Linked DNA regions of Homo sapiens: region 1 is linked to region 2. The links come from fine-mapping of genetic effects on gene expression. A gene starts in region 2. The other region holds a variant in brackets. All regions are shown on one strand. Distances are from middle to middle.

What was found. PIP is the estimated chance that this variant, and not a neighbour inherited with it, causes the effect.
Region 1: its variant is fine-mapped to the expression of OSBPL7 in esophagus muscle (GTEx, PIP 0.94).

Annotation. Positions count from the first base shown.
Region 1 is chr17:47,851,998-47,860,470 of GRCh38, reverse strand. It overlaps a transcript of SP6 not described here. Among named protein-coding and RNA genes, the nearest start is that of SP6, 5.1 kb to the right of the region's middle. RefSeq lists a silencer at 6,488-6,679. The variant A/G (reference allele first, on the strand shown) is at 4,496.
Region 2 is chr17:47,817,914-47,825,913 of GRCh38, reverse strand. It overlaps OSBPL7 (oxysterol binding protein like 7), which reads left to right and starts at 4,120. Exons shown (of 23, transcript NM_145798.3): 1 at 4,120-4,248; 2 at 5,549-5,710; 3 at 5,818-5,943; 4 at 6,132-6,185; 5 at 6,815-6,928; 6 at 7,298-7,408; 7 at 7,528-7,645. The coding sequence starts at 5,636. It overlaps MRPL10 (mitochondrial ribosomal protein L10), which reads left to right. Exons shown (of 5, transcript NM_145255.4): 5 at 1,456-2,642. The coding sequence ends at 1,709. RefSeq lists an enhancer at 3,662-3,831 and a silencer at 3,942-4,157.

The DNA.
Region 1 (8,473 bases), 34 kb before region 2:
TAGTTGCTGTATAAGATGCTGGGGGAGATTCAAAGATGAACAGAAATTTCCAGTCCCTCAAGGAACTCACGATCTTACACATGCACACAGCTAATTGTATTACCCATCAGAGAATATTAAACGCTCTATATTTTAGAACTATGGGAGCACAGAAAAGTACAACTTGAAAAACTGGAGAAGGCTTTAGAGAGCATGGGGACATAGGAGTTGGGATTTAAAAGATCCATAGGAGCTCATCAGGCAGAGAAATGGGGAAGAGCATTTCACACATGGAACAGTGTGGGGCGTGAAAATATGTGGACGGTAAGGATGGAGTAGAAGCCTCCTGGGGAGTGGGAAGGGATGTGGCTGGAAAGGGAGGCTGAGGCCAGATGGGGAATGGGGCTTCAATCCTAGGCCTAAGAGTGTAGATTTTCTCCTGTAGGTAATGGGGGGCTATTGAATGTTTTTGAGCTGAGGCACGACATGACTGGGATCTTTCCACCCTTGTAAGAAGTTTAAATTCCTACCGAGGGACTGAGGGGATTCTGCTTTTTCTGCCTCTGCCTGTCTCCGTGACTGACACCCAGCCAGCCTTTTCTCTCGGCTCCACTTACCGCCCTTGCTCCTTTGCCCCAAACCTCCAATTCCTTGTTCCAAGCAGGGTGACAGGGTGGGGAGCTTCACTCTCCCTCAGCCCTCACTCCAACCCTGCATGTCCCAGATACTCTGTGGGTCCTTCCACTTCCATCACACAACCAGGGCCAGCCAGGGGGACAGTAGGAAGCTGTGTGTGCTTACTTCATGGATCTTTGGGTTTTAAGTTCCCCGACCCAGGCTTCTGCCTTCACTGATGCCCTCCCCAAGCTGAGGAGCTTCTGGAAGCTTGGATTCTGGGGAGCCCTTTCTCTAATTCACTCAGCTGTGGCTTATCCATCCCTTTCTCAAAGAAAGGCTCTGGCCTGAGGACCCTGTGGCATGAAAGGATAGAGTTCTTGCCCTCAAGGATTCAACCAGTAGAGAAGATAAGAAAACAAGCCCATGGAAGCAGAGCATGAGGCAATAAGTGCTGAGGAAGTTCAGAGGAGCATGCCAGTGATGTGCGGATAAGAGAAGCCTTTGCAGAGAAAGCCGCCTATGTGCCAGCCAGGAGCTTGAAGGATAATGTGCTTTCCAGAGGCAAGAATGGCTGGCAGGGGTGGAAATGATTTCGACAAAGGTAGGAAGGCTGGACATGTTTGGTGAACATTAAATCCATTGGGCTGAGCTGGGCTGTAGGGTTTGTATGAGGACCAGCGGGAGAGAAGACTGCGTAGGTGAAGTGGGAGGGTCCTGGATGACACATTTAGCACTGTGGAGCCACTGGATGTGTTGGAGATGGGAAGTGCCAAGATGGAGTGGCACTTTAGGATGATTAGGCCAGGCATCATATCTCACGCCTGTAATCCCAGCCCTTTGGGAGGCTGAGGCAGGTGGATCACCTGAGGCCAGGAGTTCTAGAGGAGACTGGTCAACGTGGTGAAACTCCGTCTCTACCAAAAATACAAAAATTAGCCAGGCATGATGGTGGGTGCCTGTAATCCCGGTTACTTGGGAGGTTGAGGCATGAGAATCACTTGAACCCAGGAGGCTGAGGTTGCAGTGAGCCAAGATGGCGCCACTGCACTCCAGTCTGGGTGATAGAGGGAGACTGTCTCAAAAAAAAAAAAAAAAAAAAAAAAAAAGATGCTTCATCTGTCATTAATTAGGTGCAGGAAAGCTTAGGTTGGTGGGTACAGAAGTGGCATAGGAGACCTGAAAATTAATCGAGACAAGTAGTAATTTTTGTCAGCAAGTTGACACTTCCACAGAATTTCCACAGACCAGTGCCCATTTCCACCTCATTTGTCAATTAAACAAATATTTGTAAGATACTTGCTAAGTACCAGACACCATTTTAGGCTCTTTCTTCATCATCTTCCCCTGCCCTAAGATAAAAAGATGAAGGTAAACTCTCACCTGCACACACTTGGGAGATCTTACTTAGCCCAGCCTCCCCCTTGCAGCCTAAGCGAATCCAGTAGTGTCTGCCTTTGGAGCAGGTATATTGAGAAAAATCAGAGAACTACATGCAGTAAGGATTTGGGGGACAGTGAGGTAAGCAAGCTTAGGGGTGGGAGGAAGAGTAGCTTGGAAAGCAGAAAGCAGTTGGTGGGTGGGAAAAGGGAAGTTGACAGCTGAGTGTAGGGGAGCCCTGGGATCTTTAGGGGAGGGAGGCTGGGCAAGGAGGAGAAAGATGGAAGGAAGAACAGTAGGAGATGGGCCTCTGGGGCTGAGGATGGGGGCCGGAGGGAGGAACAAATTAGAGAGCTGAAGAAGGAAGTAGAGTCTTAGCAGCTAGGGGCGGGAGGAGGAGGTGGGAGACCGAGAGGCGAGGGCAGAGGAAATAGGCCCAGGCACTGGAGACGAAAGTCTGGGAGTCTGAGCCGCTGAGGAGCCACCTGGAAGGTGCAGGCAGCGGCAACATCAAACCTGAGATCCGAGGGCTGGCGCTGGGAGTGAGCTGCTGGAGTTGGGGGAGGTGGCTCGTGTGGGGGCCAGGGGGCGGGTAGGGGAGCTGAGATCAAGAGAGAGGGGCTTGAATTGAATCTACCCTCAGCCCCACTGGGTCTTCAGCTTCCTCAGCCCCCTCCCCTCTTCTGGCTCCAAAGGCCAGAAGCCAGGACTCTGCAGTCCCGCCCCCCACTCCAAGCTACAGGCCGCATGGCACCCACCCATAGCTTTCCCAGCTCCTCTCTCCCGCCCATCACTGGTGTTAGGAAAACACATTGTCTGGAGGTGCGAATAGAGGAGGAAAGGGGGTCTCCTGCCAGGTAGGGTGCTGGCTGTGTTCATTGCTGTCCAGGCAGGGTCTAAACACACCCCTGACTGATCCAGAGGCCAGGGGAAGGTGTGTGGGCCTGAAGGTCCAGGTTGAGGGCTGGGTCTTTTTCCTCTCCCAAACTCCCCCCCAACCCCAAGATTCTCCCATCTTTTGGACTGGACCTGCTACCTAAGCATATGGAACCGATTGAAAGAATTTGTATGCTCACCTTATAATTTATGCAAATCAACTCTGTAATTAACTATAATTTGGAGGCATCCTTTGGTATTTGAGACATTTATCCATGAGGAAATGCCCTAGTGATAATGCTCCCGTATTAACATTATTTACTCCACCTGTGTGGTCTCCTCAGCTTGTTTCCCCTCCCCACTCTGATTTTCTGTGCTGGAAGGTGGGGAGGGACAGGGAAGCCCCTCCCTGGAGCCTGCCTCAGTCCTGATGCCTGGGTTCCCCCAGGGGGTTGTGCTGGCCCTGTCCTCCCAATTTTGCCTAAGATTGAAGAAAGAGGTCCAGCTCTGCCTCCTAAGCCCTCTAATACTCTATTCTCTCCTGCTTGATGGGTGGCTTTCTGCTGAGCTTTTACCTCTTCAGGGCCTCAGTGTTCTCATCTCTGAAATGGGGAGAGGAAGGACCTGTCAGGGCCTTTATGGGATAATTGCTGAAAAGTTAATGAAGAGACTGGGAATCCCCAGTCTAGAGGTTGCTGAGGGTATAGGGGAGGAGCAGGAGAAGAGTTTTGGGTAAAGACTCCCTGGCTCATCCTGGGAGGGAGGTAGCATGTAAGTCTTGGGGTACTGGGTTCTGGTGTGTGTAGAGGGGGTACAACTGCTCCTGTCCTCTGCCAAGGGCATTGGGCTGTGGTCAAAAACAGGATGTCATCCCGTGAAAAGTCCCCAGGCCACTCTCCTATGTGGGTCAGAGTTCACAGCTTCAGTGAGCTTTGGGAAACAAGTCTTACTCTTCTGTTTCATCTCCGTTCTCCTTCCTGGTCTTTTGTCCATCTCTGCCCTGGGACATGTTTGTGTTAGCCAGTATACCTAAACTTACAACCACCCTAAAATTAGGCTCATATAAATAGAGATCTGGGGGCTCCCCCTAAATTCACCTTCAGGCCCCTTCTCCCTTTTCCAGGCCACCTTCCTACCCTCTTCACCCTCCTGGAGTTCCAGGAGTCCTGAACTGTCTGTAGCAGTTCTTGGCTGGACTCTGCCTCTGGTCTTTCTGGTCTTAGGTGACCTCTTGTCCATCCTAAGCTTCCCCACTCCATCCAAAGTCAGGGAAAAGGTCCTCCCTTCCCATTTGACAATGAGAGATCCCAGGTCCAAAAGATAGATTACACTGGGTCCTCTTGGGGGATCCAAGTTGGGAAGTGAGTATGTAAAAAGAGGATGAAAAGGGAGCGAGAGAAATTGTGGCTCAGAGAGGCCAACAACACTGACATGAAGCTCTGCAAGGAGGAACTGACTTGAAGACGTGTGGTGTGTGTGTGTTTGTTGGGGGCATGAGCCCTTCAGGTCTCAAAAATGGAACTTCTTTCTCTCTTACCAAGTCCATGGAGGAAAACTCAGGAAGAGGGGATGGAATTTGGAGAGTTCCAGCTATCCCAGCTCTCCACCCTAGCAATGCTGTCATTTCCTCCATCCTGCAAGAACC[A/G]CTTTGTCCCTCTCCCACTGCCCAGCCAACTCTGCGGAAGGAAGGAAGTGCCCCCAGCCCCCACTCCCAGCTGAAATCCTCCTTTCCTGGCAGACCTCACGGACTCAGATCTCACCTCCTACCACTCCCCTAGGAGAGCTGGGGGCCACTGTTTCCTGGATTATCCTAAAAGCTTCTGAGGCCGTGAGGACTTGGCAGCATCCCTGCTCCCTCCTTCACCTCCCCCTTTGGCACTGCCTGTCACCTCCTTTATAAAGCCTGGCTCTTTTATCACCGCCACTTGGCCCTCACTGCCGCCGCCAGCTCTGGGCTCCATGGACTGGTAAGAGAGGCTGTTCCCTGTCCAGTACAGGGGACCTCCACAAAGAGGATCAGGTCTCCACTCTAAAGTGGGGGTCATAGAGAAGGGTCTGGTTCTCTCTGAATTGGGAAGGGGGAGATAAGAGGGAGATCTTGGTGGGGTTTGCATGGAGAACTAAAGGGATCCCTTGGAGGTCTTTTGACTGGGCTGGGGTAGTCAGCCCAGTGGAGAAGTGGGGTAGGGATTCATAGCTGGGAACTTTATTTCGAGAGAAAGGAAGGGCAAATAAATGTTAATAGAAATACAGGGCACACACACTCACTGCCCTGAATGACAGAACACCTGCAAGGATAGTAAGGGAGAAACCACTATCCACATCCTATGGGGAACTGCATTTACGGTGGAGGAGAGAAGACACCCTACACTCAAGCCCACAGGTACACACAGGCATAATATGTACACACATTTGTAGATATACACACACCGACATACAGATGCACTATCCTCAGGTGGGTTCATCTTCTAGACTGAAAAGCGATGGTGGTAGCTAGGGATTTTGAAATTTATAATAAAATTAGTGTCCAGCATTGTGCTTGGCCTTAAGTAGACCCTCGATAAGTGTTTGTTGAATGAAATAAAGGATGAATGAAAGAAAACTATTTGACCCCAGCTTTAGGCTCTATCTGGTTTTCTAAGAATCAGGAGAGTATGGTGGGGAGAGGAGGGGAAATAAGGAATATGTTGGCATCCAGGGTCATCAGCTTGCAGGCTTGGAAGTGCAGCCCGAAGGTGGGAGTGGGAAATGGAGGAGAGGAGTGAGTGAGAAGAGGAAAACAGGACCAGACTCTGGTCTGGTCCCAGCTCTGCTTCTAACTTGCTACTAACGTCCCTGTTTTGGGGTTTGGTTTCCCTACCAGTAAAACGAGGGCTTGGACGAGACAATTTGGGGCTAGACCAGCTTTGATATTCTCATAGTGCAATCTCTACAGGACAGTTGAAGTTTGGAAGGGATCACAAGTGTAGAGTCTGACTTGTCTCAGCAATTCAAGATGGGATCAGTTTGTCCATTAGACTCAAGATAGGAGATGGCTTTGATCTAGGGATTCATTTAAGAATGCTGTTTCCTCCACCTTCAGGCTCTAGGGGAGCCAGACTTCCAGGGTCATCAATTCTGCCATATTGAGGCCAGATGGACTAGTAGGCAGAATACAGGCTTTGGAACCTGAGAGATCTGAACTCAGTTTCTTCTTCTGTCTTTTAACAACTCTGTAATCTTGGGTAGATCATTTAACTTCTTTGATCTTTGGCTTCCTCATCTGTACAACGGGAATAATAATAATTACTTTGCTGCATGCCCATGAGAATTAGAGATATTTGTGTAAAGCATCTGGAACATAGTAGGTGCTCAGTAAATAAATGCCGTTTGTGATAAACACGCAGACTAATGAGATTTCTCCAGGTACAAAGTGGATCACTGACTATAGATGAAGCTTGAGAAGAAGAGGGGTGGCAGGAATGGGGGTTGGACACTTGCAGGGGAAATCTGACTATTTATTTGAGAGAATGAGGAAGAGCAGCAGAAATGGCCCAAGTCCAAGACAGATCTCAGTTTATACAGGAGATGTGATGGGCTGTGTTGTTCAATTTTGAGTAGCAATAAGTATATGGGCAATGGGCTGTGGTGACCTTGCTCATTAAGTTAACATCAGACCATGCGCCGTCATTCGGTGGGAAAACATTTAGCAAGTGGGAAACCAAAAGGGCTGGAAGCAGAGGACTGCAAGTAGAGGGGGACTGGAGGAAAGATAGTGCCAGTACCCTGAGTGAGCAGCAGAAACCTAGGCAGAGCAGGAAATCAGAATGGCTGGGAGTTTCCAGAGACAACTGCATTGTTGTTGAATTTCCTGCTGATGAGCTGCAGGCAGATGGAGGGTCTTTGCTGGTGGAATTCCAGATGGCTACAGGTCTGGTTGGATCGGGGCAGGGCTAAAGGGGGCCTAGAGTGAAAGTAGCAGGGAGTGTCTACCATCCTCGGGCTGAATCCCTGTTGCTTTCCAGGGAAAAGGCAGAAGGGGCCAGGAAGAGAAGGCAATCTGATGCCTATAAATGGGAGGGGAACTTGGTCCCCTACCCAGAGTCAGACCCCTGCACAGGCTTTAGCACCTTAGGAACAGTAGATGCAGCACCAGCAGGCAGCTTGGAGGAGGAGGCAGGAATGCCCAGAGGTCAAATCAGGAACCAGAGTCCCCCACTGGGGGCTCTGTTTTGGACCTGATGAGTGTCTACTCCATTCCAGAGGTAGCTGTGAACTAGGATACAAACCCAACTGGCCAGGATTTGTAGGCTGAATGGATGGAGACAAAGCTGCGTTGATGAAGAGGATTGATTGTCAAATTAGCCATGGCCACAAAGATCCAGAGCAGTTCCTGTGAATCCACATCCAGAGCCCCAAGTAACAAGAAGGCAAAAAGCAAACCCCGACTGATCAGAAATCTCAATCCCCCGATGTCAGGCGGCATCTCCGGCTTCCAAATACCTGTCACTTCTCTAGCTTGGTGGCTGCTTTTACAGCATTTCACCAAGGAAGAAACTGAGGCTTAGAGGCACCTGACCTGCCAGGGTCAGTTTAGCAAGTGCAGGGCTGGGGCTAGAATTTAAATCCGTCAACTTCTAGTCCACAGGTCTTTGTGCATACACCTTAATCCAACCAATATTTACCTGGAACTGACTTATTTAATAATTATAACAAGGATATCTTCCATTTACCCGGCGCTTACCAGGGGCCCCTTGGGCTAAGCATTTTTAGGCATATCAATTCCTTTAAGCCCCCAGGAGACCCTACCAATGTGTACCCAGGTTGTCCGGATGAGGGAAATGAGCCTTAGAAAAGAGGGAGATGCACAGATGAATCCGACGTCGATTCTGGATAAGAACGTGTGCGTGTCTGAGGGGTACCATGCACATACGCATACACACATGGATTGATTTTCACCCCGCTTATGCACTCGGTTTAGCTATTTTTGAGTTACAGTTTGAGTGTGTCCCAAACGGGCATGCAGGACAGGTAAACCAATGGCGGGGGGGAGTAGGGGCTGTAGAGGCGAGATTAAATCAGCCTAAATTCAAGTATGAAATCGACTGTAAAGAGGAAAACGAAATTTTAAAAAGCCGACGGCAAAGCGCACAGAGGAGACGAATCTGAAAAATGAAAGAAATAGGGAAATTAATCTGCATTCCCCTGTGAAAAAAGGGGTCACATGGAGAGATCAACACTGCGGCATGGGAGTGAAGCATGGGGCCACCTCAGCGGCCAGGCAGAAGAATGCGTGGGTGGAGGACGGAACTTCCCTACCCACCGGTGCTTTGCGGGTCTCGGAAATGTCGACCCATCCAGATCTTGAGGGAAGTTTTTGTGAGCTCCGCGAGCGCGCTGAAATTTTACCAGAATATTGCACTGGGCATGTGAATTTTTCTCAAAGGAATCCAAGACCCCTCCCCAAAGTTAAGAACCTTGGGTTTAGTTATTCTGGTGAGAATTAGAAAGGAATGGTGGCAAGGGATAGCTCAATTCCTTCCAGAAGTGTCCCTTCCCAGGGCCATTCAGGCGCCTGCCCATTCTTCAGAACCGGGTGCTCGGGGGCGAGGGTGTGCGTAGGCTGAGCATTTCCCGAAGGACA
Region 2 (8,000 bases):
GCCACCTCAGCCTCCCAAAGTGCTGGGGTTACAGGCATGAGCCACCGCTCCTGGTGAATCTGTGATTTTAATACCCCCTCAACACTCCATGATATTTATTCAATTTTTTAATTGTAAAATACACACAAAATTTACCATCTTAACCATTTTAAATGTACAGTTCCGTGTTAAGTACATTCATAATGCTATGCAACATCACCACCATCCATCTCCAGAACGTTTTGTCTTCTAACAGTGAAACTCTACACCCATTAAACAATAGTTCCCCGTTACTTCCCTCCATTCCATGATTCAGGGTCTCACTCCCATTGCCCAGGCTGGAGTGCAGTGGTCCGGTCATGGCTCACAGCAGCCTGGACCTCCTTGGCTTAATCCATCCTCCCACCTTAACTTCCTAAGTAGCTGGGACTACAGGCGCATGCCACCATGTCCAGCTAATTTTTGTATTTTTTGTATTTGTATTCACCATGTTGCCCAGGCTTGTCTTGAACTGCTAGTTTCAAGCAATTATGCCACCTTGGCCTCCTGAAGTGTTGGGATTACAGGCGTTTTCCACTGCACCCAGCCTGATTCTTTGTTTTTTTGAGACGGAGTTTCGCAGTTGTTGCCCAGGCTGGAGTGCAATGGCGTGATCTCAGCTCACTGCAACCTCCGCCTCCCAGGTTTAAGCGATTCTCTTGCCTCAGCCTCCCAAGTAGCTGGGATTACAGGTGCTTGCCACCATGCCTGGCTAATTTTTGTATTTTTAGTAGAAACGGGGTTTCACCATGTTGGCCAGGTTGATCTCAAACTCCTGACCTCAGGTGATCCACCGACCTTGGTCTCCCAAAGTGCTGGGATTACAGGCTTGAGCCACCGTACCCAACCTCATCCTGATTCTTTTTTTTTTTTTTTTTTTTGAGACGAAGTTTTGCTCTTGTCACCCAGGCTGGAGTGCAATGGCACGATCTCAGCTTACTGTAACCTCTACCTCCCGGGTTCAAACGATTCTCCTGCCTCAGCCTCCCGAGTGGCTTGGATTACAGGCGCTCGCCACCATGCCTGGCTAATTTTTGTATTTTTAGTAGAGACGGGGTTTCTCCATGTTGGCCAGGCTGGTCTTGAACTCCTGACCTCAGGTGATCTGCCTGCCTCAGCCTCCCAAAGTGCTGGGATTACAGGCATGAGCCACCACACCTGGCTGCCTGATTCTTATTTACAAGGAAGTTTAGGAAACACTGACTTAATAGGGGTCAGGGCCAGGTGGATATATTAAGAGTTTTCTGAGGGAAGAGTGAAGAAGTAGGGATCGATCCCAAGCAGAGTGGGTGTGGTGTGGGGCACAGTGGAACCCAGGTCCTGGGGAAGGCAGGATTTTGAGAAGGGCAATGGAGAGCAAGTTACTAGGGTCAGAATATTGTTTTCAGAGAAGAAAGGCAATCTGCAAGGAGCCTAACTGACCCTGTGTTCTTCCAGGTGGCTGCATTGATGACACCATCCTCAGCAGGCAGGGCTTTATCAACTACTCCAAGCTCCCCAGCCTGCCCCTGGTGCAGGGGGAGCTTGTAGGAGGCCTCACCTGCCTCACAGCCCAGACCCACTCCCTGCTCCAGCACCAGCCCCTCCAGCTGACCACCCTGTTGGACCAGTACATCAGAGAGCAACGCGAGAAGGATTCTGTCATGTCGGCCAATGGGAAGCCAGATCCTGACACTGTTCCGGACTCGTAGCCAGCCTGTTTAGCCAGCCCTGCGCATAAATACACTCTGCGTTATTGGCTGTGCTCTCCTCAATGGGACATGTGGAAGAACTTGGGGTCGGGGAGTGTGTTTGTCACTTGGTTTTCACTAGTAATGATATTGTCAGGTATAGGGCCACTTGGAGATGCAGAGGATTCCATTTCAGATGTCAGTCACCGGCTTCGTCCTTAGTTTTCCCAACTTGGGACGTGATAGGAGCAAAGTCTCTCCATTCTCCAGGTCCAAGGCAGAGATCCTGAAAAGATAGGGCTATTGTCCCCTGCCTCCTTGGTCACTGCCTCTTGCTGCACGGGCTCCTGAGCCCACCCCCTTGGGGCACAACCTGCCACTGCCACAGTAGCTCAACCAAGCAGTTGTGCTGAGAATGGCACCTGGTGAGAGCCTGCTGTGTGCCAGGCTTTGTGCTGAGTGCTGTACATGTATTAGTTCCTTTACTGCTGACCACATTGTACCCATTTCACAGAGAAGGAGCAGAGAAATTAAGTGGCTTGCTCAAGGTCATGCAGTTAGTAAGTGGCAGAACAGGGACTTGAACCAAGCCCTCTGCTCTGAAGACCGCGTCCTGAATTTCTTCACTAGAGCTTCCTCATCAGGTTACCCAGAAGTGGGTCCCATCCACCATCCAGGTGTGCTTGGATGTTAGTTCTCCACCCTCGAGGTGTACGCTGTGAAAAGTTTGGGAGCACTGCTTTATAATAAAATGAAATATATTCTACTTCCTTTATTTTGTGGTTTACACGGTTGTCCTCCCTCTAAACTTACTCTCAGGGGCTTCTCTGTCATCTGACTTTCCTCACTCTTGCTTCCCTTCCTAGGAAAATCCTCTTCCCCTATACCTGTTCCCACAAATGGCATCCCGCGCATGCTTGCCCTATTAAAGGCAGCTGACAGCTGTACCCACTAGCTAACGTGTCTCTGGTGGTTCTGGACAAAAGGCCTGCGGGAAAACTAGGATTCTCTATTAATGGGGAATTCTGAGAGCTCTAGGGTAGGAGGCCTCATGCAAGTCTTCATGAACCAGAAATTCCTAATAAAGGAGACGGGATGCTTAACTCAGAGTCCACCATCATCCTTGACTGGAGCACATTCTGGGTGGATGCAGGGGTGACCCGGGGAAGGTGGCTGTTCAACATTCCTTCTCGGACTTGAAGCAATGCCACCGCTTCCTTAGTCTTGGACAGGCACTGTCTGGCAGGGATGACCTGCAGCAGCTCTTTTGTGGCCTGGGCCAGGACCAGCTTCCCCCAGTGCCTCATCCTGTGCTGTATGCCCAGGGATGTTCAATCACTGGGAAGTGGCTTAAAAGGCCCTTGAGGCTCCTGGATGCCAGAGCTTGTCTGGTCAGTGCTGCCCAGTGCTCCTGTCCCTCCCAGAACCCTGCCAGGTGCTAACAACACCCTCCTCCTGGGGTGGCTGGAGCAGCACTGAGGCTCTGAATAAAGGCAAGACAGTGGGTGTTCCCGAGAGATATGTGAGACCCTGAAACGTAAACCAAGCTCGGTGAGGATGAAGTGGAAGGGATAAGTGGCCCATGTCACTTTTGGGGTCAGAGAAGAAACTTGAATCACATCCTTCACCTGAGGCCCCACCTACTTCTTTCCAGAAAACTTAGCTGCGCTTGAAACTGTAGGTCTATGCCACATTCATTTGAATGAATTTTAGATCTTTGTTAAGAGCCGATTTTTCATTAGAATTGAGCAGCTGGGCACAGTACTCCAGCAGAAGGGTAAAGGGAAGGGAGGGGACCAGCATTGCAGCCCTTTTAACGGCAGCTGTGACTGCCCCAGGCCTGCTCCTGATCAGAGACTGCAGGCTGTGGGGTGTCTTCATACACACAAGCACTTTCAGATCTCCATGGGGCCTGACCTAGTGGGGCATCACCCCAGTGAAGGGCCTCAGTGTGGGGACTGCTGGCTGTCCCTTTCCTGGCTTGACTGCCCCTGCTGACTGTGCTCTTGGCACTCTCTTATGGTCCCAGAGGGGGCATCTGTCCCTCCACCATCAACCTGATACTTTTGCTGGCTCCAAATTTTGCAGTCTATTTTCAGATGTAAAATGAGAGGCGGGGGGCGGGGGTTAATTAGGAATTGGCCTTGGGTACTAACAGGGTCACTGCCATGCTAGTCTGAATAAATCCTTTATCACCACTGGCGTACAGCCAACAGTTCCCCAGTCCTCTGATCTATCTGGAACCATGCCCAGCAGGGACTGTGCCCCCACTCCCAAGCCACATCGATGCTAGGGCAGTCTGCTCAGCCCTGAGTCCTCCGGGGAGCAGGGGGGCAGAGCTGAGCGGCTGCCCGGAGCTTGGCGGGAGGAGGGGACAGGGGAGAGGGAGGTGGGGAGATCCGGCTAGAGGGGAGGCTCTGACATCTCCTTCCTTCCTGGTTCCTGCAGCAGCTGCTGCCACTGCTCAGCGCGGTGAGGAGGGAGCCGGTGACTCGGAGACGGTGACTCAGAGGCAGAGCGGCGCAAGGGCCAAGGAGTACTGGCGTCCATGGACCCTGGGGTAAGGGGGCTGCGTGGCAGCAGCTGACATTCCTGAGAAGAGCTTCCTCCCACCTGAAGCTGGTGGGTCTGCTCCTGAATAGAGGTGGAGAGGGGGCACCCACCTGGCTCACCTAGACCCTTCACCTGCCTACCGATAGAGCCTCCCCCTCTACCCACAAGCAGTGAGGGGCCAGGATCCCCACAGGGCCGGGAGAAGGGCCCAGAGATACCTGAACACCGGAAGAGTTTGAGAACTTTCAATGGCTGAATGCAGGAGTTTCCTCCCAGGTCAGCCTCTTGCAGCAAGGGTCCCTCTGCCCCAACCTCCTGGGCACCCGTTCCTGCCACATCCCTGTCCCCTCTGGGCCTCAGTTCCTCAGGTGCTTGCTAGCTCCATTAGAAGATCTGGGCTGCTTCCCCCACCTCAAACCAGCCTCGCCCCTCCAGTCCCCTCCCCCGTCTCACACATGCAGAGCCTCATGCATTATTGATCTCCCGGTGGAGCCAGGATGGCCAGGGCCAGTGCCAAGGGTGCCTGTGGGCACTGCTGCAGGACCTGTGCAGACCTGGGCATGTCCTGGGCCCCCTCTTCTCTCATGAAGTATCTCCTTTAGCCCAATGTCCTGCCCTCTCTGGGTGGGTGGCACTTCTCAGAGCCCCAAGGACTGTGAGGGTAGACAGGGGATGGTGAGGCTTTAGGGGGTACTGAGGGTCCAAAAAGGGCATCCTAGGGGCATGTTTGGTGGGAGGAGACATGGGAAAATGGGGGCTATCTCAGGCCTCAGTTTCTCCAAGCACTAGATAATATGGAGATTAATTGGTGGGAGGCTGGGGAGTTTTCTGCAAGATCATGGCAGAGAAGTCTCTGAGCTACGGTGGCAGGGTGGAGGGGTCCTGAAGGCAGAGGCAGCTGGATTGAGGAGGTCTCGCTTGTCCAGTCTCTGAACCCCTCTGTCTCTTCTTGGAGCCTCTTCTGTCACTCCCTTGCTTCACCTCTGAGCACTCCCAGGGAAGCCTCTAAAGAAAGCACTGAATGTTTCTTGGAGCCCCAGAGTATGTGCCCAAGGCGGGGCTGGGCATATGTCTTGTGGTTTTCCCTGGGCACCTGCCCGTCTGCTGTGTGCTAGTTCACTCTCAGGGCAGTGTCCATATCAGGTGAAAATGGGTGGGGTCGGGACAGAGGGGCAGACTTGGGAGAGGCTTGGCAGGTGAGCAGAGGGTATGTTGGGGAGCCCTTATCTCAGAGGGTGTGGGAGGGGCTGGAGGTGGGGAAGGTGATAGCAGAGTTTGCGTTAAGGGGGTCTTTCTCTTGCTTCAAGGACCCCGTCAGGAGCAGGTGACATCCTTCCCCTTCCACCCTGCTCCCTGCTCTACATCCCCAGCAGGGAGTGGCCTCTCCCTTCTCCATGGACTTCCAAGAGAGGGACCCGCCCTTCCTGCCTGAGAGCGCTCAGTCCTCAAAGCCCAGCAGTGCTCAGCAGGTCAGAGAGTGGGAAAGCGGTGGTGGGTGGGCCAAGCTGGAACCAGACAGGGAGGGGCCAAGGCGGACGTCTCACCAGTGCTCCCCTCCCTCTGTCCTGGACTGCAGGCCTCTGAGCTGTGGGAGGTGGTGGAGGAGCCTCGGGTCAGGCTGGGGACAGAGGGTGTCATGCCTGAGAGGCAGGAAGGTCACCTGCTCAAGAAGAGGAAGTGGCCTCTGAAGGGCTGGCACAAGGTAGGGTGGGCAGGCAAAGGGAGGGTCCAGACATGGGGGGCGGGGTGGGAATGGGGGGCAGCTGCTGGGCAGTCCAATGGTGTTTGCATGATGAGAAGGAAAAGAAAAGCTAATTTGTGTGGTTGCCTTCTCCCTCATGCCCTTCCTCTCGGCCTCCCGGGTCCTGTCACTCCTGGGCAACATCACAGAGATACTTTGTGCTCGAGGACGGGATCCTTCATTATGCAACAACCCGGCAAGACGTGAGCCCGGGCAGTGGCTTGGGGTTGTGGGAGGAGTCTGGCCCCAGTATGCCCTGGGCAGGCATGGGGTATCTGGAATCGACCAGAGCAGGGTCTGAATCCCAGGTCCACCACTTGCTGAATGTGTGATCTCGGGCAAGTTACATCCCTGGGCCATAGCTTCCTCACCTCTAATGGGAGAGCACCATCCCCCAGGTGCAGAGCTGTCATGGTAAGGGAGGTCATACGTACAAGGCTCTCTGGACAGGGCAGAATAAGTGCCCAAGAAATGGGGGCTTTACCACCCTCATCCTGGTCCCATTCTCAGGCTGGGAACAAGGAACTGAAGGCCTGGGTACCCAGGATCTCTCTGGGAGGGTGTTGCCTTCCACAACCCTGCAGACCCCTGAGGGTGGGAATAGTTTTTCTTGATCTGTGACTTCTTAGAGACCAAGATGTGACTTGACGTAGGGGAGCGTTCTGCACATGGGAGGATGATTGACAAGTCTCTACTGATAGTGTGACTTGGACATGAGGGTGAACCTGCCACCTGGCCCTTGAGCCTAGAATGGCATCAGGGAGATGGTGGCTCTATGGCTCTGAGAGCCTAAAACAGGTCCCCTCTCCCTCTACCAACACTTCACCCCCAGATCACCAAGGGGAAGCTCCATGGCTCCATCGATGTCCGGCTGTCGGTCATGTCCATCAACAAAAAGGCCCAGCGCATTGACCTTGACACTGAAGACAACATCTACCACCTCAAGGTGACATCCCTGGGAGGCAGGACGTGTGTTGGCCCCCAACCTGACAGAGGCATTGGAACACACAGGGGCAGGGGCTGAGGGTCTGTGGAACTCAGGGTCTGTCTCTGAGTTTGACAAAAAGTAAGTTTCCATCCTGTAAAAACAGCCAAGGGCAAACCTGCACTTCTTGGTTGTTGTATGGACAGGCACAGAGCTAAGGGCTCAGACACCTGGGCGCCTTGCGCTCTGTCTCCCTGCAAGTGAGCCTTGCACAAACCAGGCTCTGTAAGAAGAGACCCTGCTTGTCTGGGGACCAGAGCCCTGACTTCTTGCTCTTGGAAAGTGGTCCCTCTCTTCAGATAGCCCTCCCCCTCTCCATCACTTCTGCAGATCAAATCCCAGGACCTATTCCAGAGCTGGGTGGCGCAGCTGCGTGCCCACCGCCTAGCCCACCGCCTGGACATGCCCCGTGGCTCACTGCCCAGTACTGCTCACCGGAAGGTAAGGTGGACCCTGGGGTGGGGGCAGGTAATGTGGCAATTCAGGGGCAAGGGCTATGGAGAACTGTGAGACCCAGGGAGGTGGGCATCATCCTTCCTGACCCTGGGCTCACCCCACAGGTTCCTGGTGCCCAGCTTCCAACAGCAGCTACTGCCTCAGCCCTACCTGGGCTTGGACCGCGGGAGAAAGTGTCTTCCTGGCTGAGGGACAGTGATGGGCTGGACCGCTGCTCTCATGGTGAGGGGCCCTAGGCGCAGCACCTCCAAGGGTAGGCCCCAAGCTGGCAGGTCTAGGAGGGGAAAATGTTACCTCCATCCCTGCCTCAGGGAGCCCCAGTTTAATGAGACAGCCTCTGCCTCCAAGGAGATCCAGTCTACCTGGGCCCTGTCTAGGGGAGTCCCAGTCTTACAGAGGAGTAAGAGTCTGCCTGGGCACATAGACAGACGTGGATGCAGGGACAGGAGTTGTGACAAAGCAGATACTGAGTGCCCACACAGGGCAGGGGCCTGAGGAGTAGCGCCAGGGAAGGGGTGTGCTCTAGGAAAGGGTTCCTGCAGTAGGGTCTGTGAAGTTGGCCTGGAGGGAGAAGTGT